Regions from separate parts of the Homo sapiens genome. Here region 1 is linked to region 2. Evidence: fine-mapped expression QTL. A gene starts in region 2. The other region holds a variant in brackets. All regions are shown on one strand. Distances are from middle to middle. Region 1 holds the start of LOC105376712 (a long non-coding RNA gene). Region 2 holds the start of PIK3CD (phosphatidylinositol-4,5-bisphosphate 3-kinase catalytic subunit delta).

Evidence for each region. PIP is the estimated chance that this variant, and not a neighbour inherited with it, causes the effect.
Region 1: its variant is fine-mapped to the expression of PIK3CD in whole blood (TOPMed, PIP above 0.99).

Annotation. Positions count from the first base shown.
Region 1 is chr1:9,624,448-9,636,428 of GRCh38, reverse strand. LOC105376712 (a long non-coding RNA gene) reads left to right here and starts at 7,002. Exons shown (of 2, transcript XR_946951.2): 1 at 7,002-7,205; 2 at 7,746-7,982. It also overlaps a transcript of PIK3CD not described here. RefSeq lists enhancers at 5,764-5,823, 5,854-5,903, 8,467-8,931, 10,119-10,258 and silencers at 6,404-6,513, 9,039-9,378. The variant C/G (reference allele first, on the strand shown) is at 6,348.
Region 2 is chr1:9,646,662-9,658,642 of GRCh38, reverse strand. It overlaps PIK3CD (phosphatidylinositol-4,5-bisphosphate 3-kinase catalytic subunit delta), which reads right to left and starts at 6,912. Exons shown (of 24, transcript NM_005026.5): 1 at 6,841-6,912. PIK3CD-AS1 (PIK3CD antisense RNA 1) reads left to right here and starts at 4,057. Exons shown (of 2, transcript NR_027045.1): 1 at 4,057-4,445; 2 at 4,600-6,033. RefSeq lists enhancers at 4,670-4,719, 5,860-5,929 and a silencer at 6,110-6,999.

The DNA of each region.
Region 1 (11,981 bases), 22 kb after region 2:
TGAGGCCAGGAGTTCAAGACCAGCCTGGCCAACATGGTGAAACCCTGTCTCTACTAAAAATACAAAAATTATCCAGGTATGGTAGTGGGCACCTGTAATCCCAGCTACTGGGGAGGCTGAGGCATGAGAATTGCTTAAACCCAGGAGGTGGAGGCTGAAGTGAGCCAAGATTGCACTGCTGCACTCCAGCCTGGGCAACAGAGTGAGACCATGTCCCCCCCCAAAAAAATGCAGAATTGTTTGTACCTGGGTCACAACTGTGTGTGACATACACACATGGGCACAGTGGGAGGGGACTTAGAACAATGGAAGCTGAGAGAGAGGTGGGGCTTCAAATGTTTTATCTCCATTTTTGTCTGTCTGCTCACATTTTGCTAACAGTGTAATAAAAATACATAAATGTAAGATTAAAAAGCTGGGTATTTATTTATTTACTTCCTTTCCCAAGTCAGAGCGAATCCCTCTTGCTGCTCATACCAGGACCTTGGATGGGCAAGTGTTTCATCTGTCTGGGCTCCAGGCCCTATTTGTGGCAGCCAGATGCTCACATGTCTGCCTGCTCCATCAGTAACAGGGGCAGCCCCGTACAGGGATGGGAACCCATCAGAAGGACTCCTTTAGGAATGCACTTGGCATGGGAGAAGTCTGTCAGTGGACAGCAGAGCCTCAACCAGTTGCAGCTGTAATCCAGGCAATTGCAAGATGGCAAGAGCACAGTGCTATGGCAATGGATGCCCAGCTCCGGCTCTAGGAGATCCCCCACGCATCCACATGGCTACACCAGCAGTCTCCAGTCAGGTGTGACTGCCCAGCATGCCCTTGACCCTATCCAAGTTGATAAGACCAGGGGTATCACCTGACCCAAGGCGAGCCAATCAGTGATTTCCCTGGGAATATGGAATTGGAATCAAGGGAATAGAGTTAGTGTTCTTTAGACACCTGGAGCGTGGGTGGTCTAACATGGAGCCAGCGAGCTGCAGGGCCTCTTTTGCCCTCAAAAGGACTAAAGAAATCAGAGGAGCGGATATGCAGAGGAAGAGAGAGTGGGGGAGAATCATGCAGCAGATGCACAGAGAGGAAGAGAGGGACACAGATGAGAAAGAAAATTCTCATCTTTTCAGCTCCTGGTTCCTGTAGCTTTTTTTTTTTTTTTCAGGATGGAGTCTTGCTATGTTGCCCAGGCTGGAGTACAGTGGTGAGATCTTGGCTTACTGCAACCTCCACCTTCCAGGTTCAAGCGATTCTCCTGCCTCAGTCTCCTGAGTAACTGGGATTACAGGAGTGCACCACCACGCCTGGCTAAGAGAGGGGGTTTCACTATGCTGGCCAGGCTGGTCTCATACTCCTGACCTCAGGTGACCCACCCGTCTTGGCCTCCCAAAGTGTTGGGATTACAGGCGTGAGCCACCTCGTCTGGTGTAAATTTCCCTCTTCCTATAAGGACACCCAAGTTCAATGTGACCTCATCTCAACTAACTACATCTGCAAAGACCTTATTTCCAATTAAGATCACATTCTGAGTTTCTGGGTAAGCACAAATTTTGGGGAGACAATAGTCAGCTCAGTATAAACTCTCTTGAGTTGGATATTGTTATTCAAAACAAAAAAATCCCAAATAATACACATATTGGTGTCAGAAGTGGGGTGTTAAGTTTCAAGTTACTTTCAAAGAAAGTATGAAACTAGCTGACTCGAGGCAGAGTGAGGGGCAATGAGGTTTTCCTATTTTTGGATGGGACACTGGCAGTTCTTGTTTTGTGTTAACAGATGAGTTAAACTATTTTCAGTGACCTCATGGGACTCAAAGGCTGAAGTGTTAAGAAACTTGGAGGCTGGACGCAGTGGCTCATGCCTGTAATCCCAGCACTTTGGGAGGCCAAGGCGGGCAGATCACTTGAACTCAGGAGTTTGAGACCAGCCTGGGCAACATGGCGAGGCCCCATCTCTACAAAAAATACAAAAATTAGGGCCAGGCATGGAAGCTCACGCCTGTAATCCCAGCACTTTGGGAGGGCGAGGCTGGTGGATCACATGAGGTAAGGAGTTCAAGACCAGCCTAGCCAACATGGTGAAACCCCGTGTCTACTAAAAATACAAAAATTAGCCAGGCCTGCTGATGCACGCCTGTAATCCCAGCTACTCAGGAGGCTGAGGCAGAATCTGAGGAGAATCGCTTGAACCTGGAAGGCGGAGGTTGTAGTGAGCTGAGATCATGTCACTGCACTCCAGTCTGAGTGACAGAGTGAGACTTTGTCTCAAAAAAAAAAAAAAAAAAAAAACAACCCAAAAATTAACCAGGTGTGGTGGCACACACCTGTGGTCCCAGTTACTCAGGAAACTGAGGAGGGAGGATTACCTGAGCCCTGGAGTAGAAGTTGCAGTGAGCCGAGATCACGCCACTGCACTCTAGCCTGGGCAACAGAGCAAGGCCCTGTCTAAAAAAAAGAAAAAAAGGAAAAGTCTGTGAGCCTAGTAACTGGAATGGGAATATCTGGAAAGAGCCACAGGAGCACACAACCCTTAACCTCCTGGGATTACAGGTCTCTGGTCCCTCTTAAGAACTTCCTCTTCCCAGACAAACATGATGGTATCTCCTATTGTCCAGTGGTAGAAGGGCAGGCAGAGGTAGCATTCCAAGAGAAATTAGAGAAAAAAAACCTTCTTTCTATCCCAAGCCAGACGATGATTTCCTCTTTTCACTCTTAGGCTGAAAGAAGAAATTAGCCCTCACATTTGCTGCTAAGAAACCCAAACCTCGGGGACATGACCTATGACCTAGTCTAAGGCTGAATGTTCAACCGCATAAGATTTCATGACATTAGCTGGGCCCGATGGCTCACGCCTGTAATCCCAGTACTTTGGGAGGCTGAGGCAGGTGGATGGCCTGAGGTCAGGAGTTTGAGACCAGCCTGGCCAAAATAGTGAAACCCCGTCTCTACTAAAAATACAAAAAATTAGCTGGGCGTGGTGGTGAGCACCTGTAATCCCAGCTACTAGGGAGGCTGAGGCAGGAGAATCACTTGAACCCAGGAAGCAGAGCTTGCAGTGAGCCGAGACTGCGCCATCGCACTCCAGCCTGGGCGACAAGAGCGACATTGATTATTGGTAAATGGCATGATCCCAAATAAAAGTTACAGGCAACCAACTAGCGTTTTACGAGAGTTGAAAACCAGGAAACCACGCCTGACAAATTGGGGTTTGTGATCTCTCATCCCCACCTGGAGAATTCCTAAGCCAAAGTACCAGCACCAACAAGAATCAGGTTGCTGATCAGGCACGGTGGCTCACGCCTGTAATCCCAGCACTATGGGAGGCCGAGGCGGGCGGATCACGAGGTCAGGAGATGGAGACCATCCTGGCTAACATGGTGAAACCTCGTCTCTACTAAAAATACAAAAAATTAGCCGGGTGTGGTTGCAGGCACCTGTAGTCTCAGCTACTCAGGTGGCTGAGGCAGGAGAATGGCCTGAACCCTGGAGACGGAGCTTGCAGTGAGCCGAGATGGCACCACTGCACTCCAGCCTGGGCAACAGAGCGAGACTCTGTCTCAAAAAAAAAAAAAAAAAAGAATCAGGTTGCTAAGGTAATTATATCACCTCCTAGAAGCCGCCTTCCCAAGAAACTCTCAAGGGTGGGTCTGAGAGGCTCTAGACTAGAAGGGATCTAGAGATTCCTTCTCAATGGGCAGAACTTGGGGTAGTCACATTTGTCAACAAAGGGGCCAAGGAAGGTAGCCACAGAGCAAACCCCAAGTGATACCTTGTTCCTAATGTTCAATTGACCCAACCCACCTGGAATGCTGCAGCGCGTGCTTTGTATATTGCATCCACATTTTTGCTCTATAGATCAAGTATGGTAGGAGAGGTTAAATTGATCTGTTCCTCTGTTGAGAGGATCCTGGAGAGCCACCAGGGAAGAGATTCAGCAGAAACAGAGGGCAGCTGGGCATGACGGCACATGGCCGCAGTCCCAGTTACTTGGGAGGCTGAGGTGGGAGGATCGCTTGAGCCCAGGAGTTTGAGGCTGTAGTGCATTATCCTTGCACCTGTGAATAGCCACTGCACTCCAACCTGGCAACATAGTTGAGACCCTCTGTCTTTAAAAAAAAGAAAGAAGAAGCCAGGTGCGGTGGCTCACGCCTGCAATCCCAGCACTTTAGGAGGCAGAGGCAGGTAGATCACCTGAGGTCGGGAGTTTGAGACCAGCCTGACCAACATGGAGAAACCCCATCTCTACTAAAAATACAAAATTAGCTGGGCGTGGTGGCGCATGCCTGTAATCCTAGCTACTCAGGAGGCCGAGGCAGGAGAATTGCTTGAACCCAGGAGGCGGAGGTTGCAGTGAGCTGAGATCGCACCATTGCACTCTAGCCTGGGCAACAAGAGCAAAATTCCATCTCAAAAAAACAAAAATAAAAAAAAGAAAGATAGAAGAAGGAAGGAAGGGAGGGAGGGAGGGAGGGAAGAAGGATGGATATCAGATGAAGATGGCAGCTCTGAGAATAGAGCCCTGGATGCAACAGTTTAACATGGTGAGATGGCTTGGATCACCTCATTTGACGGGGGAGAGGTATTTGAGATTGACTTTGAGGTGTGGCAGGACGAGGTAAAGCAAGGACAACTGGAATGAGGATATCTGGGAAAAGCCAAAGGAGCTGGGCAAGGGCCTCTGTGCTGGGCAGGACCAGAATGGAATGAACTAGAATGGACACCACTGGCCTTTAGGCCATTAGGCCGACCTGCCCCCCTCCCTTTTTTTTCTGAGTTGGAGTCTTGCTCTGTCACCCAGGCTGTCACCCAGGCTGGAGTGCAGTGGCGCCATCTCAGCTCACTGCAACCACCGCATCCAGGGTTCAAACGATTCTCCTGCCTCAGCCTCCTGAGTAGCTGGGATTACAGGCATCTGCCACCATGCCCAGATAATTTTTTGTATTTTTAGTAGAGACGGGGTTTCACCATGTTGTCCAGGCTGGTCTTGAACTCCTGGCCTCAAGTGATCTGCCTGCCTTGGCCTCCCAAAATGCTGGGATTACTGGCATGAGCCACTGCACCCGGCCAGTCTGACCCCCTTTTGGTAATCCTTTGTCATGTACCCATGAGGACAGATGCTTAGCGTTCACACTTGACCACTAGCCAGCTGAACGGACTGGAAGGGAGGCCTGGATCCAACACAGGCTAATCAAGTCCTTCCCAGGGAGGTGGGCTTGGGACCACACATAGTTCTCTTTGGGTGAAGGGATCCAGGATGTAGCAGCTTGACAGGTGTGATGCAGACGGGCAGATGGGGGCAGACAGGTGAGTGGCACTGAGAAGTGTCCCTGGGCTGTCTGCAACTCTGGGTCTGATAAGAGCACCCTGCATCTCTGCTGTAAAGTCAGTCCCCTTTCCTGCTTGAGCGAAAGGGAGCTGGTTTCTGAGCTTAGGCTGGGGCATGAACTCTGTCCCGGTGTGCAGGGTGAGGCTATAGCTTGAGAACAAATGGATGACCAATCATCTGAATGGAGCCAACCCAGCCAGCCTCCCAGGGTCACCTCCCATCACTTCCCCCTCTCTGCCCTCCCTGCTGGGCCAGGAGCCGGGACTTGTAGCTCCAGAACATCCCAGGCTTGCTGTCTGACTCTGGACGTTTGCACATGCTGTTCCCTTTACCTGGAGTGCCCTTCCCCACACTTCCTTCTGCCCTCTTCTGCACACACACACACACACACACACACACACACACTCACTTTCTTTGCTAACTACTCAGTAGAATTCGGGCCCAGCACAGATGTTACCTGCCTTGGCCCCCTTGCCCGAAGGGGCCCTTCATCATACTCCTGGCTATATCATCCCCTCCCAGCTCTTGGTCTACTCAACCATGATTGCCTATTCGCTCAGCTGCTCCTGGGAGCAGGGACTCTACATGGATCTGGACAGGCTCCTGGGCTGCTCCCCTGTGTCTGGCACCCAGAGGGCATCACCAGTGAGTCTGTAGAAATGCTGAATGAAGGAATACATGAGTGATGTGGTCATGAAGGGACAAGGTGATGCTTTGCCCAGGGGCCAGGGGGCTGTAGCCGAGGAAGAGAAAGGACAAGTGTCCACATCCTAGCCAGTGCAGGAACAGCCCCTTCACACCCTTCAAGGAGGGGCCTGACACCGAGTGACCCTGCAGTCCATGATCCAAGGCCTGACGGCCTCCGGGGGGTAGGGAGGCTAGACTCACCTGTCAGAGTGGTCCCTCTGCCCCTGGTATCACCAGACAGACGTGGGTCCAGCCTGGATCAGTCCAATCCCGGAGGCATTCTCAAGCCTAGGGAAAAATGCTGTTTTCAGAGTGAGGACCGCACTGAGGACTCCTCTGCTCCC[C/G]CCGTGGGCCAGCCCCCAGTCTCCCTAGCATCCTCAGCTACTCTGAGCTGGAGAGTGCAGAGTGCAAAGCACACTCCTCTCCCAACCTCGTGGTGTCCTGGGCGCCTCTGACCCCCGGGCTTCCTTCCCAGGCAGGCCTCCGCCTCCGCCCCCACTCCCCCCTCACCCCATGAAAGAGTAATGGCGCAAAATTCGTTGGGGAGAAAAACAGGAAGTGGAGAGCGAGGGTGCAGAAGTGCTCCCCAGCCCGTGCACCGCAGCCTTACGGGGAAGTGCTCAGGGGCGGTCCCGGCCCGACTGCAGGGGTGGGGGAGCCTTAGGGCGAGCTGGGAGTCCGGCGAGTACCCTGTGGCGAGGGGCTTTGTTTTAGACCGAACTTCACACCTGCACCCTGCCTCTGACATCTTAGCTCACCTTCTCCCAGCAGCTCCCCAAGGTTGAGACCATGACCCCATTTTACAGACAGGCAAGTGCGCTCAGAGAAGTGAAGTGACCTGGCCAAGGTCACACAGCCTTTCCCACGGCAGGGTCGTGGCTCCTCGATTCTTTCTCAGGCTTTGATTTCTATTTGTGGTATGTTTTTGTTCTAGGCCTCTGAGCGTGGTGGGTGGGGGCGGGGGTGGGGGGGCAGGGAGTGCTGTTTCTGGCTTCTCAGCACATCCTCATTCTCGGCTGGTGGTAAGAAAGGGGAGAGGGTCAGCTGCTGAGGACCGTCCTCCCCTGGGGGTTCCTGGAATGTGTGAGCTGGGAGGACAGGTGCCCCGGCCTCTTTCTCGGAGAAGAGGAGAAGGAGCCTGGGGGGAAGGCACCCCAGTGACAACCGCAGAGGGAGGGCACCAACCCCCAACACAAACTCAGGTAGGTGTGGCCTTGAAGCCCCAGGACTCAGAGCTTCAAGTGAGTTCAGACTCACCCTTTCCTCCCGGGGCCGCAACTCACAGCAGCCCCAGTCCTTAGAGGCGTCAGTGGCCCGAGACCCCCAGGGGAAGAGGTGACCTCAGGTGGCCTCACTGGGGTGACAGTGGGGAGAGAACCCGCTGAAAATACTCCCCACCCAGGCCCGCCCCTCACTTGGGTCATGAAGCCCCCTCGCCCTGCCTGCCCCAGGGCAGACCACAGACGGCAAACGGGGGCTTCTGGGGACCTTCCCATGGAGTTCCCACCGCCCAACCTTTTCCTTCCGAGGGTCCTGGGGGATCTGAGTCCTCGGGATCACCCTTACTGCCCAGTGTCTCCCTAGTCTTGACCGCAGCTCGTCTGTCCTTCACCACCCACTCCTCCTTCACCACCCACTCCTCCACCCTGGCCACCAGCTCTTCCCCTCCAGCTGCCTCTGGAAATCCCCCCAACATTCCACAGAGCCCTCAAACTCAACACACCTCCAACCAATCTCACCAGGGCCACCAACTCTGGGCCACCTCCGTGTGAGGAAGGCAAAGAAGGCAGTCTGCCCGGTCACTGAGGCTGAAACCTCAGAGCTGAGCTGTGGCCTCCACTCACCCACCACTGGCCCATCCTCCCTCCACGGCAGGGGCGCCTTTCCCAGAAGGCTCTGGCGTTGCTTAGACCACAGCGGAGGCCGGTGCTCAACTTTTAGAATTGCTGTTGGAAATAAATAATTCATATATGTAAAAATGCTTATAATCGTGCCTGACACAGAGTGAACCCCCATAAAATGTGAGTGTTTGAGCTATCCTTCTAGTATATTCTAGAATGGCATCTTTGGGCTTTGTGAGACTGGATGTTTCTGCGCTAAGAGTATTTTTCTTTCTTTCTTTTTGAGATGGAGTCTCACTCTGTCACCCAGGCTGGAGCGCAGTGGCACAATCTTGGCTCACTGCAACCTCCGCCTCCCAGATTCAAGCGATTTTCCTGCCTCAACCTCCCGAGTAGCTGGGGTTACAGGAATGCGCCACCACGCCCAGCTAATTTTTGTATTTTCGTAGAGACAGGGTTTCACCATGTTGGCCAGGCTGGTCTCAAACTGGTGACCTCAGGTGATCCACTGGCCTCAGCCTCCCAAAGTGCTGGGACTACAGGCGTCTCGCTCTGTCGCCCAGGCTGGATCGCAGTGACGCGATCTCAGCTCACTGCAGCCTCAACCCCCTGGCTCCTGCGGGAGGTGCCATCTGCCTCCATGGTTCCTCCATTGTTCTCAGATCAACAGTGGGGCTCTGCCACCCGCGGCCTCTGTTCCCTGTAGCCGTGGGCTGCGGGGCTGCGGAACTAGAAACAAGAGGCCCCCTGGCCTTTAGCATCGAAGGCCCCTCCTCTCTCTACTGCCTTTGGGCAGCAGTCATCCCTCAGCACCAACAGCACCCGGGGCCAGCAGGGAAGGTGGCCGCGATAAGGGAGGCCTGGCCGCCCTTCCCTTTGTGCAGGAGACTCAGCCCCTGGTCCTCAGCCACCCCAACATCACAGGGAACTAGAATCATAAGTTAATATCTGTAAAGTGCCCAGAACCATGCCAGACCTGGATGAGAACTCAGTACACATGTTATCATCATCATCATCACCACTGTCACCTAATTTAATCCTTACAGCCGCCCTGTGAGATCAGCGTCATGCTCCCACTGACGGGCGCGAAGTCTGAGGTGGAGAGAGGCGAGGCCCACGCCTTCGTGCAGGCAGCTGCGCAGGGATTCAAACCCCAGCCTGTTGGATGCTCGTGCTCTCAGCCTCGTGCACGGGTTTCCATCTCCGCGGGTGTGAAGCCAGCTGTGGAGGTGCACACCTCTGTGCTGCCGCCACCCCTGCAGGAGGCAAAGAGGCCGCCACGGAGCCCGGGTGCCCGGAGCCTTAGGTCGCCCAGCCGGCGTCTCCCCCGGGCATCCGCTCCCCGACCTCGCGGCCTCCGGGTTGGGCGCCAGGGAAGCGCGCGGCGCCACCTGGTGGTGATGCCTGGCCAAGGCCACAGCCGCCTGCAACCCTCAGCCCCTGGCTCAGCGGCTCCCCCTGCTGCCCGCCCGGCGGCGCCGCGTGGTTTCCGCCGCACTCTCGGGACTGGGAAAGCGGAATTCACTTTCTCTCCTGCCCGCTTCCTCCAGGGATGGAGAAATGAGCGTAAACCCTGGCGCTGCTGGGGTCCTGGGGCAGGTACTGAGTCAGCAAAGCTCATTTTGTTGAAACTGTGTTTTGTGTCCCTCCAAACCTCCCATTTCTTTTTTTTTTTTTTTTTGAGACGGAGTCTCTCTCCGTCGCCCAGGCTGGAGTGCAATGCTGCGATCTCGGCTCACTGCAACGTCCACCTCCTGGGTTCAAGAGATCCTCCTGCCTCAGCCTCCTGAGTAGCTGGGATTACAGGCGTGCGCCACCACACCCAGCTAATTGTATTTTTAGCAGAGACGGGGTTTCACCATGTTGGCCAGGCTGGTCTTGAACTCCTGACCTCAGGTGATCCGCCCACGCCTCGTCCTCCCAAAGTGCTGAGATTACAGGCGTGAGCCACCGCGCCTGGCCTCCTTTCTTAATTCCTGCATTGCAAGTGGCAGATTGTTCTAGAGCTGCTTGCCGCAGCCTTGGTACTGGCAGCTCAGCCTGGAGCTCACCCTCCCTTCCTCCCTGCCCAGCTCTGCGACCCTGTGCCCCGGACCCCCTCTCCAGCAGCCTTGGGGGCGTCCCCACCCAGGCACTTGCAGGCCCCTGCAAACGGAATCTGCCCCAACCCGACTCCCTGGCCACCCGGATCTGCCCCTGGCTCACTCTTCCTTTCTGCTTCAGCGAAAGCTTATCCCCTCTCTCCTCTGTGGTCAAAGCAGAAATCCCCAACAGGGTTCACTTCTCTCTCTTGCCCGCAGCCTCATGCAGGTGTTGCCAAGTCTTGCTGTCTGAGATGGTCAAGGGATAGGGGCTACAAGTTACACCCATTCATTCTGCACTTTATCAAATGCCACCAGTATGCCCTGAGGATACAGCAGTGACCAAGTCCCTGCCCTGGAGGATCTTCTAGTGGGTGGGTGGGCGCGGCTGATGATACAGAAACAAACAAGTACATTCCTAACATCTTGCACAGTGGTAAGTGCTAGGGAGAAGAGTAAAGTGGGGTAGGGCCCTTGGTCACCAGTGCCATGTCCCAGGTGCCGCCTCACCCCACTCGGGCTCCCACACCCCACCAATTGCCTTTCTCACTCCACTCTGACTCCCTGAGAGGACTCCCTCCTCTCCACCCCTGCCAGGCTCTGATACCTCCCAGCAGGTCGCCCTCCTGGGTGACTTCCACCCTCACCTGGCTGGAGGTCTGATGGGCACACCTGGCCACCCAGGGGGGCCGCTCCATGGCTTGTAACTCCCCCAGTGCCTTTTGGACTGAATTTCCAAGGAAGGGAAGGAAAGAAATGAAAGGCAAAGAGGGAGAGCTGTCCCTCAACTTGATATTATATCTTGAAAAATCTGCCGGGCGTGGTGGCTCATGCCTGTCATCCCAGCACTTTGGGAGGCAAAGGTGGGCAGACTGCCCGAGATCAGGAGTTTGAGACCAGCCTGGCCAACATGGTGAAACCCTGTCTCTACTAAAAATGCAAAAATTAGCCGGGTGTGGGGGCGCATGCCTGTAATCCCAGCTTCTTGGGAGGCTGAGGCAGGAGAATCGCTTGAACCCAGAAGGCGGAGGTTTCAGTGAGCCAAGATCATACCACCACACTCCAGCCTGGGTGACAGAGCGAAACTCCATCTCAAAAAAAAAAAAAAAAAAAAAAAAGAAAAAAAAGTTTGTGGCCTGGCACACTGGCTCAGGCCTGTAATCCCTGCGCTTTGGAAGGCTTAGGTGGGAGGATCGCTTGAGGCCAAGAGTTTGAGACCAGTCTGGGCAACATAGCAAGACCCTGTCTCTACAAAAGATTTTAAAAACTATCTGGGTGTGGTGGTGCACACCTGTGGTCCTAGCTACTTAGGAGGCTGAGGCAGGAGGATTGCTTGAGCCCAGGAGTTTGAGGCAGTGAGCTGATTGTGCCATTGCACTTCAGCCTGGGCAACAGAGTAAGACCCTGTCTCTAAAATAAATAAAAAGAGAAAAATCTCAAACTCTCAAAAAAAAACAAAACAAAACCCAACAAACAAACAAAAAAAACAAAATACAATGAAGACATATACCCTAAAGAAAGGTATCTCCAGCCTGGCGCGGTGGCTCACGCCTGTAATCCCAGCACTTTGGGAGGCCGAGGCGGGTGGATCACGAGGTCAGGAGATTGAGACCATCCTGGCTAACAAGGTGAAACCTCGTCTCTACTAAAAATACAAAAAAAAAAAAAAAAAAAAAAATTAGCGGGGCATGGTGGCGGGTGCCTGTAGTCCCAGGCACCTACTCCTACTCAGGAGGCTGAGGCAGGAGAATGTCGTGAACCTGGGAGGCGGAGCTTGCAGTGAGCCCAGATGGCGCCATTGCACCCCAGCCTGGGCGACAGAGCGAGACTCCTTCTCAAAAAAAAAAAAAAAAAAAGGTGTCTCCAGATGGGAGGGAAAAATGGCGGCCTGTTTGCGAGTAATCCTGGGAGTAACCCAGGAAAAAGGAAAAGCGGTGAGGAGGAAGAAGAGGGAGAGGAGGGAGGGGTGGGCAGCTGCCGTAACCGGGTCCTTGAGCAGACTGGGATCAGGTGTGGTGGGTAGGAGGTGTGGGGTATGGGCTGGGATGGCAGCATG
Region 2 (11,981 bases):
CAGGAGAATCTCCTGAACCTTGGAGGCAGAGGTTGCAGTGAGCCAAGATCCCACCACTGCACTCCAGCCTGGGTGACACAGGGAGACTCTGCCTCACCAAAAAAAAAAAAAAAAAAAAAAATGTGGCTGGGAAAAAACCCAGTTCAGCTGACTCCAAAGACAGTACATTTTCTCCCACGTGGCAATCCCCCTAAAACCACCACCTCACCCAGCCCCACCCTCACCTGGACATAAATGACTTTTTTTTTTTTTTTTTTGAGACAGGGTCTCGCTCTGTCACGCAGGCTAGAGTGCAGTGTTGCAACCATAGCTCACTGCAGCCTTAAACTCCTGGACTCAAGTAATCCTCCCACCTCAGTCTTCCACATAGCTGGGGCTACAGGCGTGCATCACAAGGCCCAGCTAATTTATTTTTATTTTTTGCAGAGATGGGGGTCTTACTATGTTGCCCAGGCTGGTCTCAAACTCCTGGGCTCAAGTGATCCTCCTTCCTTAGCTTCCCAAAGCATTAGGAATACAAGCATGAACCACCATGCCCAGCCATAAATGGTTTTCCAAAGTTTCAAAAACAAGGCTGATTATGCTTCTCTATTGATAAGAAAGCACTTCTTCCAGATTTCATGACCAACATAGAAAAGAGCAATGCCCCCACTGTGGCTGATGCAAGGGGGGGGCCCAGCCCTTCCAGAGAGCCCTGGAGCACCTCACCCAATCATTCTCCCATGTCCTTATCCACCCCTCCTACAAACTTCAATGATTAATGGGGCTCCCCAAACCCCTCCCAGTGCCACCAGCCCCATACCATGTCCTGGGGTAAGAGGTGGGAACAGAGCAGTGTCTGTGTCACCATCTGAGCCCTCCCCCCACCTCTGCCCAACAGATGAAATTTCAAAATGTGAGGGGCTGTGTGACCTCAGAGAGAGAGAGAGTAGCCCTGGGCTGGGAATGGGCTGCGGAGGGCAGGGACTGTTGTTGAAGATAAAGAGGGAGGAGTTTGTTGGGGAGGGAAAGTAAGAGAAGCATTTCTCCTCCTGAGCTCCAGAAGTTTTCTGCTCCTGGGACCCCAGGAGGTTGGGGGTGAGGTGGGGACTGCCAGTTCATAAAAGTTGGGGAACGGAAAGCAGGAAGGAGGCTGGGGTCAATGGTCCAGCAGAGACCACCAGGGACTCTGACATCTTTGCCTAAAGTCACCCAGGGGAAAGTGGCAGAACAGGGCGGCTTCCCTGCAAAGATAACCGCACTTCCCACCGTCCCCAGAAAATACAGAAAGACATTCCTGTTTATCTGTAAGCGGGCTGATTGGTGGCCCCCACAAAGATAGGTCTTAACCCCCAGGACCTGGACATTATCTGGAAAAATAATAATGTGGAAAATGGGTCTTTGCAGATGTAAGTAAGTTAAGGATCTTGAAATGATTTCTATCTGAATTATCTGAGGGAGCCCTAAATCCAACAAGAAGTGTCCTTAAAAGAGACAGACGGAGACCCAGACACACGGAGGAGATGCCCTTGTGAAGACGGAGGCAGAGACTGGAGTGATGCAGCCACAGGCCAAGATACGCTGGAGCCCCCAGAAGGAAGAGCAAAGCAGGATTCTCCCCCTACAGCCCCCAGAGGGAGCGAGGCCTTGCTGATGCCTTAATTTTTAACTTCTGGCCTCCAGAACTGTGAGAGAATACATTTTTTTTTTTTTTTTTTTTTGAGATGGAGTCTCGCTCTGTCACCCAGGCTGGAGTGCAGTGGCACAATCTCAGCTCACTACAACCTCTGCCTCCTGGGTTCAAGTAATTCTCCTGTCTCAGCCTCCCGAATAGCTGGGACTACAGGCACGTGCCACCACGCCTGGCTAATTTTTGAATTTTTAGTAGAGACGGGGCTTCACCATGTTGGCCAGGCTGGTCTTGAACTCCTGACCTCAGGTGATCCACCCGCCTCAGCCTCCCAAAGTGCTGGGATTACAGGCGTGAGCTATCACACCCGGCCCATTGCTGTTGTTTTCTTTTAGTGACAGGATCTCGCAATGTTGCCCAAGTTGTAGTGCCATGGCTACTCACAGGCTCAATCATGGCTCACTGCAGCCTCAAACTCCTGGGCACAAGTGATCCTCCCACCTCAGCCTCCCAAGTAGCTGAAACTATAAGCATGCACGTTTCTGTTTTAAGCCACAAAGTTTGAGGTCATTTGTTACAGCAACCACAGGAGGTTAACACTGGTTGAGCATCCCAAATCTGAAATCTACAACGTTCCAAAATCCAAAATTTTTGAGTGCCATCATGATCAAATACAAAGCTCCTTGGAGCATTTCAGATGTCAGATATTTGGATTTGGAATGGTCAGTTGGTAAGCATATAATGCAAATATTCCAAAATCCAAACTCCACCCCATTTCTGGTCCCAAGCATTTTGGATAAGGGATACTTAACCCGTACAGCATCCCTCCAGGACCAAAAATCCCAAATAGGTCTATCCCTTTCTGCATCTCCTCCTCCCCCACCCTACTCCTGGCACCGCCCACTCTTCCGGCATTTTCTCTAAGTGGAAGCAATTTCCCCCAATATGAGTGAAACAGAAGCCAACCGAAATACCACTTTGGAAATGCCACACCCTTCACTCTGATCACTCCCCCTGTGCTCAGAATGTAATAGGAAGGCCGCGCATGGTGGCTCACGCCTTTAATCCTAGCGCTCTGGGAGGCCAAGGTGGGCAGATCACCTAAGGTCAGGAGTTCGAGACCAGCCTGGCCAACATGGCAAAACACCGTCACTGCTAAAAATACTAAAAATAGCTGGCCATAGTGGCGCACATCTGTAATTCCAGCTACTCAGGAGGCTGAGGTGGGAGAATCGCTTGAACCTGGAGGCAGAGGTTGCAGTGGGCCGAGATCACACCATTGCACTCCAGCCTGGGCGACAAAGCGAGACTCCGTCTCAAAAAAAAAAAAAAAAAAGAAGAAAAAAGAAAGAAAGTAATAGGAAAAGGGACCCATTTCCAGGAGCCCTGACCCTTATCCGAGGTGGTAAGGTTGTGACTTCTGGGGAGGGAGGGGAGTTTCACGCATATCCAGCCAGTGCAGCTGGAAGGGGAACTTTCACAGGCCCTAGGGACTGTGCTGGCCCTCAGGGAGGGGAGAATGGCCGTTATTTTGGTAGGACCCACAGCAAGTCACAGTGTTTAGCTGCAATAAAAAAGGGGGGGGGGCGGGGGGTTCCTGGGTTTTTTATTTTTTCCATCTTGAAACTGGCAGCATTTCTGCTATGATTGCCGGGGATTTCCACCAACCAAACTAAAGACAACTCAGTCTTAGCGTTAACTGTAGGGAGAGAGGTGGCGTTTTGCCACCTTCGCTATTTATGAAACACTGTCACCGGTACCAAGATGACAATATTTTCCTCCCTTTCAAACAAGCCAGGCTCTGCCATCCTCCAGTGGATAGGGCCCTTCCTTGTCTCCTCCATCCCGGGGTACTGCTTCTAGACCATCTTCTCTAACAGCTTTGCTGAAAAACACACTTGTCCCCTGGGGAGTAGCTGAAGCCACCCTCCTGGCTGAAAGAGCTTTTTTTTCTTTTTTTTTTTTTTGAAATGTAGTCTCACTCTGTTGCCCAGGCTGGAGTGCAGTGGCACAATCTCAGCACACTGCAACCTCCACCTCCCGGATTGAAGCGATTCTCCTGCCTCCACCTCCCAAGTAGCTGGGATTACAGGTGCTCATCACCACGCCCAGCTAATTTTTTTTTTTTGCATTTTTCGTAGAGACAGATATTCACCATGTTGGCCAAGATGGTCTTGAACTCCTGACCTCAAGTGATCCGCCCACCTCGGCCTCCCAAAGTGCTGGAATTACAGGCGTGAGCCACCGCGCCCAGCCTGAAAGAGCCTTCTGAAGGTCCCACGTTAAGGAAACATTTGCTGGGGCCCCAAACCCCACCATCAGGCCCACACCGGCAGCTGGCCTCAGGGAGGGCGGGAACTGCTCTCTACACAAAAATGGTTTTGAAAATAACCCAGCCAAAGGGGAATTGCTTCATCCGTTGCACATTCACTTCTCCCTTTCACTGTGCAATTTAAGTAAAACAAGATGAAGCAGGAACCGACTCTCACCATCCCCACTCCCACCTCCATGAATTCCATCGGACAGTTGTGCGAAAGCGGGCTGGCTTTCGCACAACCATTGGTGGACTGTCTGTCCTGTAAGCCCCCCAGGGGCTGATGCCCTCCCAGTCTGCCTGCCCTGTTCTTAGCACAGCCCCTGGCACCCCGTGTGATCTCAGGAAACACTTGCTAAACATGGTATCGGAGGAGAAACGGAGCCCACAGCTTAGTGCAAAGACCTGGCGGCGTGGACTGAGGCTGCAGAAACGCAGAAACGCGCTTTTCCTGCCAGAAGGGGACATCTGCGTGGTCGGGAGTACCTCTGGGGCACGTGCCCTAATTCCAGAAACATCTAAGTGAGTAGTGTGGCCAATGTAGTCTGTTTCTGAACAGGGGCTGAAGGGCGGGGGAAGTGGGGCTCAGAAGGAGGCTAGCTTAGTTGTCTCTGGAGCAGGCAACTGGGTTGTTGTATTATGTTTCTCAGAGATGGGCTCTTGCTCTGTCACCCAGGCTGGAGCGCAGTGGCACTGTAATAGCTTACTGCAACCTTGAACTCCTGGCTTCAAGTGATCCTCCCGTCTGGGCCTCCCAAAGCACTGGGATGACAGGTATGAGCTACCGCTCTCAGCCACAACTGGGTTTTAAGAGCACTCCTCCAGCCCACTCCAGTGTCTTCCATCATTCTGTGAAAGCACCAAAAGAGGACCAAGCCCAGGAAGCCGCCAGCAGGCCTCTCACCAGCCAAGATGGCTGGAATCCTAATATCAAGAAATGAAACTCCAGCAGGCCATGGAAATGCTAAGGGGTTGGCATTTCTGCTCTAGAGAGAGCCAAAGAGAAAGCTCTATTTATATCTCCTTGCGTTTGGTCGCAGCCTCATCAACCAAAAGAACCTTCCGCCCCACTCAACACATCAATCAAATTGGGGAGGGGGTGTGAACAGCAGCAGCGGGTGTTACAGAGGAGTCTCAAGGGTATCTTAGAGGGTGCCTCTCTGAACAGTCGTCCCCTCCAAATCCCCCCCAAGAGAATTACTAGGACATTCTCCTTCCCCCGCAAGCAACGGCACCCCCAGATGATTAAACGCGCTGGCGTCGGAAAGAGCTGGGATCCTGGAGAAACTACTTGTAAACTGTGTGGGTTGGTGAGTTATTTAACTTTTCTGAGCCTTCGTTTCCTTAACTGTAAAATGAAGACAACACCACTCAGCTCCTACAGTTGTCCAGCTGAAATCACCTAGGTAAGAACGACCAGTTCTTTGGGGAGTAATGTCCCGATGGTACCATTCAATTGTCAAGAACACCAAGGCACCGTCAGGCACCCGGGCGGTATCCCACTCTCCTGGAAGAGAGCAGGGGGTTAGCCCTTGGTTTCAAAGTCCCTAGGGAGCAGTAAACCTTCCCCTCCGAGAGCCCTGAGAGAGGAATAATTGCCCCTTCCCACTCCAACCCACGGCACACCCGCCCACATCCACGTGCGGCTGTGCCCAGCATCTCAGAGGTAGGACTTCTCAGGAATCGGCGGGAAGAAGCCCCCTTGATGGAGTCTGGTGGGGTTCAAGATCTGCAGGTCCCACCTTCCAGGGAACACCTGCACAAGTGAGACCTGCCCGATCAGCCCCGCGCTCCATCCGCAAACTGGGCAGATCCCAAGGGTGCCACGCGAGGACCCTGCACCTTGGCCGCTCCAGGGCGCCCCCCACCCGCGACCCCGGAAATCTCGCCCCTACCTGCTTCACCCTCGCCCCACCCACAGCGCACTTTTCGGGACCTCCCAGCGGCCCTTCCCCGGTTCTCTGGACCCCCGTCTCCCCGCCCTGCAACGCCCCCATCCTGGTGCCCACGAAAGGTCGTCCCAGTTCCCCTCTTCTCTACCTCAAAGGAGGAGGTGCAAATGAGGAAGCCTAAATAAAAACAGGAAACTCGATTTTTTTAAAAAGCCTCATTCAGGCTGAATTACGGGTAAGAGTATTTTTTTAAAAAGTCCGGAAATGCAAAGCTGGGGGCGGTTTTGCCGGCGTAACCCCGGCTCGGCCGCAGATCCGGAGCTGATCTCGCCTGCGCCGCTGCAGCAAACGCGGCGAGCAACGCGGGAGGCCCGGGACTGGGAGGCGGGGCGCGGGTCCACGAGCCGGGAGGAAGCCCCGAAAACTTCCACCCCGGCCCCTCTGCAGCCCCGCTCCCCACTTGCCCAGGCTGGGAAGGGCGCACAGGACCCGGGCGCCGGCGAACTGTGCGCAGCCCTCTCTCCGCGCCAGGGCACTCGGGCGACATCACCAGCGCGCTCTCTGTGGACCCCGCTGCCGTACAGAGGAGGCCCCTGGTCCTCTAGTCAGCGCTCGGAGCGGGCGCACGCGCTGAGCGCTTCCAGTATCCTCGCGCCTCAGCCGGCGCACCGGAGGCCGCACCGCCGCTGTGAGCGCAGCTGAAACCCCGCTGCCGGGCCAGGCGGGCAAGGCGCGCAGTGCAGGCGCCGGGGAGCTGCGCACGCCCCTCTCGGCGGGCCCACGGGGGACGGCCCCGGGCCTCTAGGGCAGCCCCCGCCCAGGTCCCAGCAGCCCGGCCCCCGGGGCTCCCAGGACCCGGCTCGCTAGACTCGGGGAGGCGCCCAGGGCCAGGGCGCACGGGCTGTGTGTGCCGGAGAGACGCCCGCCAGCCAGCCCCGCGCCCCCGAGCGCAGCCGCAGCTCCCAAAGCCCCTGGCCGCGGTCCTCTTCCCACCTCCCCTGACGCAGCCAGCGGCGATCGCTTACCGTCCCGGCGCAGCTGGCAGGGCTGGGCGGCTCTGCTCGCGGCCGCTCGGAGCGACTGCGCTGGGCGCGAGTGAGCCTCGAGGGAGGGAGGCGGGGCGCGCCGGGGCGCCCCGCCTGCCGCCAACCCGCACACTCCACTTCCCACTTTGTTTCCTTTTCACTTGCAACAGGAAAAACAACAGGTCCTCCAGGGCCTCGCCTTCCCCCGCCGCCCACACTCCCCAGTTCGCCTACCGCTAGAGGGGCATCATCCCAGGTGCCTCTGGAAGCTGCACCTTGCTTGCCCTTCTACAAAACAAGTTTTCTTTTTATGCAAAGGAAAACAACGAAATAAAGGTCCTAGGCGCCTTTAAGCGCTCCGCCTTCACGCAGGAAAGAATTTCAGCAGGAGCGGGAGAAAGGCTGAGAGCAGGAGAAGAAGAGGGGGTAACCTGCAGCTCTAGGCACCCAGGGACCCCAAGCGCCATTGCGAGGTGACCAGTGTTGGGGCTCAGGACACACACCCAAAATGTGACTATGGGAGACCAGCGTGTGCCACCCCAAAATATACTTCTTCGCCATATTTTGAAGGGATTATTCTTAGAAACTGCAGGCACAGGAGTAGATCTGAAAAGCTGTCCTTTTGTAAAATGATTTCTATCTATAAAGAAAATCTCCAGGCCTGGCACTGTGGCTCACTCCTGCAATCCCAGCAATTTGGGAGGCCGAGGCGGGAGGATCACTTGAGCCCAGGAATTCAAGCCAGCCTGGGCAACATAGGGAAACCCCCGTCTCTACAAAAAAATTAAAAATTAGCCAGTCGTGGTGGTGCACACCTTGTAGTCCCAGCTACTCGGGAGGCTGAGGTGGGAGGATGGCTTGAGCCAGGGAAATGGAGGCTGCAGTGATCCATGATGGCACCACTGCACTCCAGCCTGGGAAACAAAGTGAGACCCTGTCTCAAAAACAGAAAAGAAAAGGAAAATCTCCATTGGTAAAGTATTAGTATCAGGCGGAGGGCTGCTCAGAGCTAACTTTTCTTACCTGAGAAATTTTATCCGCATAAGAAGACAAGCTTCATTCACCTTACCCTCTCTCCCCTCACTCTCCCTTAACTTGTGTACCACCTCCCCAGGATCCCAAGCCTCTATTCCTTTTTTTCTTTTCTTTTCTTTCTTTTTCTTTTTTCTTTTCTTTTTTTTGAGACAGTCTTGCTCTGTTGTCCAGGCTGGAATGCAGTGGTGCCATCTCGGCTCACTGCAATCTCTGCATCCTGGGTTCAAGCAATTCTCCTACCTCAGCCTCCCAAGTAGCTGGGATTACAGGCACACGCCACGACACCCAGCTGATTTTCATGTTTTTTTGTTTGTTTTTTGTTGTTTTGTTTCTTTGTTTTGTTTATTTTGAGGAATCTTGTTCTGTTGCCCAGGCTGGAGTGCAGTGGCGTGATCTTGGCTCACCACAGCCTCAGCCTCCTGGGTTCAAGCAATTCTCCTGCCTCAGCCTCCTGAGTAGCTGGGACTATAGGTGCACACCACCGTGCCTGGCTAATTTTTGTATTTTTAGTAGAGGTGGGGTTTCGCCATGTTCACCAGGCTGGTCTTGAACTCCTGACCTCATGATCCACCCGCCTCAGGCTCCCAAAGTGCTGGGATTACAGGCGTGAACCACCACACCTGACCCAAGCCCTATTCCTTTCTGAAGGAATGTTTCCTGTCCCTTGTAGGATGTTATATGAGCTTTATTCATCTGAGCCTTCATCCAGTCTTGTATTTTGTGGGATTCCCATGCATAGGTCTTAGTTACACATGGTTTTTCTCTTGTTAATCTGCCTTATGTAAATTTAATGTGGAGCCCAGCCAAGGAATTTAGAGGGTAGAGGGAGGCCACTCTCTCCTCCCCTACAGCAGGCATGACTGAGAGGCTCGGGGAGACAGCCCAGGGCCTAAGTCCCTCCTTGCTCAGCCCTGGGTTGACAGCAGCGACCTCCAGGCTTTGGTGGACCAAGAGTATGGGGGTGGTGGGTGAGCCCACCCCTGAGATTACAACAGTGGCTTCATGCCCTCCCAGGATAGGGTGAAGGGTGAGCCAGTCAATTGCTTAGTGAAACAATGGCTTAAAGGACCCTCTTCAATCCAGCCTGGGAAGTAAAGCAGCTGTTATTGGTCCCTTGGACAGATGAGGGATCTGAGGCTTAGAGAAGGACTTTTTCTACCCAAGAGATGCCTGGGCCTCTCAGGACCACCTTGGGCCCCGTGCTGGCTCCAGAGGCTGCAATAAGCAGAGGCCCAGGCCAGGCATGATGGCTCAGGCCTGTAGTCCCAGCACTTTGGGAGGACGAGGCTGGAGGATCCCTTGAGGCCAGGAGTTTGAGACCAGCCTGGGTGATATGGCAAAACCCAGTCTCTACAAAAAAATAGAAAAAATTAGCCGGGTTTAGTGGTGTGCACCTGTAGTTCCAGATTCTCGGGAGGCTGAGGTGGGAGGATCACCTGAGCCCTGGAGGTTGAGACTGCAGTGAGCCATAACTGTGCCACTGCACTCCAGCCTGGGTGATGGAGTGAGATTCTGCTTTGAAAAAAAAAGAAAAAGAGCGAGAGAGAGGCCCAGAGGCCGTTATTCCAGCCAGGAAAGGGGAGAGGGCTTGGGTAAGATGGAGTGGCTTGCTCAATTGTTCCAGTTTTTTTTGTTTTTGCTTTTTTTGTTTGTTTGTTTGTTTGTTGAGACAGGGTCTTGCTCTGTCACCCAGGCTGGAGTGCAGTGGCATGATCTTGGCTCACTGCCACCTTGGCCTCCCGGGTTCAAGCGACTCTCATGCCTCAGCCTCCCAAGTAGCTGGGACTGCAGATGCGTGCCACCATGGCTGGTTAATTTTTGTATTTTTTAGTAGAGACGAGGTTTCACCATGTTGGCCAGGCTGGTCTCACACTCAGGCCTCGGGTGATCTGCCCGCCTCAGCCTCCCAAAGTGCTGGGATTACAGGCATAAGCCACTGCGCCCGGCCTGGTCCAGGTTTTCTAAGATGCAGGCTGCAGATTCTGTGTTCTCCAGTGGACACTTGCAGAGGAGCCAGGAAGGACCACAGGTCCCTTTTGGAAGGAACGTTGGGCCTGTCCCCAGGAATGCACACTAGTATATCCTTTCTAGTGGAGTGTCTGAGGCTCACAGCCTCTTGCTTACCCCAGGCTCAGATTACTGAGCCTTAGCAGCGGTCTCTAGCCTGTTTCAAGGATGCCAAGAGCCAGAAGACAAATGGACGTTTCAGAAGGAACTCTGACGGCCGAGTGAGCAGCCTGTCCTGAGGGAGCGGCCCGTCCTAAGGTTTCCTAACACCTGGCCTTAACCATGCTTTTGCTAGGCTGCACTTTCAACGCTGCCCTCTGGTCTTTAGAGTTTGTTTCAAGAAACAGCCAGATGACGAATGGTTTTGCATCTTCCAAAGGAATTCTTCATTGAATATGTATTTGCTGACAGCAATTCAAATCATGCTTTTTACTATGCAAGATGCTGCCGGGAGAATGGAGGCATGCCAAGTTGTCAAGCGCTAAGATGTGCCTTACATATTGTTCTCTTTGATCCCCATGAAGGAAACCAGAATATGTCCCCCCAAAATATACCTCTTTGACGTAAATATTTTTGAACTTAAGGCAATTAAGAAGCAGCAGGCAGATGAAGAGATCTTTCTATCATCTCCCCTTTTCTGCCTGTTAAATAAAATTTGCAGGAGGCCATTGATTGGGACAAGACCCCTGTACCGGGTCCAACAGACCAAACCAATATGGAGTCATTCATGGTAAATGAAACTAATTAACTTAAGAGTATATACATGTAGCAAATAGCTGAGTTTTTGTCAGTTATAGCAGCTGAGCTTTAGTAGATCTTAGGTGGCCAACTGATTCAAACAAAGCAAACACTGTAACCAATTAAGCTCTATAGCTTACTTCTGTTTTACATCCATAAACACTCTGACTGTGTTACTGGCTGAAGCCCTTTGAACCTGTCCTGGTTCTGAGGGACTCCCAATTTTAGACTCATTAGTAGGCCAGGATGACTCACACCTGGAATTCCAACACTTTGGGAGGCTGGGGCTAGAGGATCAAGACCAGCCTGAGCAACATAGTGAGACCTCATCTTTACAAAAAATAAAACATTAGCCAGGCATGGTGGCATGTGCCTGTAGTTTTAGCTACTTGGGAGGCTGAGGTAGAAGGAGGATCCCTTGAGCCCAGAAATTCAAGGTTGCAGTGAGCTGTGATCTCACCTCTGCAATCCAGCCTGGGTGACAAAGTGAGACCACGTCTCTAATAATAATAATAATAATAATAATAATAATAATAATAATTAGAATCATGAATAAAAGTTAAGATCTGTAAACTAGATTTGTTGTAATCTTAACTTTTAAAAGATGATTATTGTTTTATTATTATTTTGAGACAGGGTCTCACTCTGTCACTCAGGCTGGAGTGCGGTGGTGCAGTCTCAACTCACTGCAACCTCTGTCTCCCAGGCCCAAGTGACCCTCCCATCTCAGCCTGCCAAGTAGTTGGGACTACAGGCATGGGCTAATTTTTTTGTAGAGACAGGGTTTTGTCATGTCACCCAGTCTGGTCTCAAACTCCTGGACTCAAGCAATCTGCCAGCCTCAGCCTCCCAAAGTGTTGGGATTACAGCTGTGAACCATCCTGCCCTGCCAGTCTTGACTTTTTTTTTTTTAGACAGAGTCTCACTTTTGTAACCAAGGCTGGAGTGCAATGACACGATCTCGGCTCACTGCAACCTTCACTTCCCATCTTCAAGCAATTCTCCCACCTCAGCCTCCCAAGTAGTTGGGACTACAGGCGCCCGCCACCATGCCCAGCTAATTTTTTTTTTTTTTTTTGAGATGGAGTCTCCCAGGCTGGGGTGCAGTGGTGCGATCTTGGTTCACTGCAACCTCCGCCTCCCTGGTTCAAGCGATTCTCCTGCCTCAGTCTTCTGAGTAGCTGGGACTAAAGGCGTGAGCCACCAAGCCCGGCCCTAATTTTTGTATTTTTAGTAGAGATAGGGTTTCACCATGTTGGCCAGGCTGGTCTCCAACTCCTGACCTCAGGTGATCCGCCCGCCTCGGCCTCCCAAAGTGCTGGGACCACAGGCGTGAGCCACCACACCTGGCTCAGTCTTGA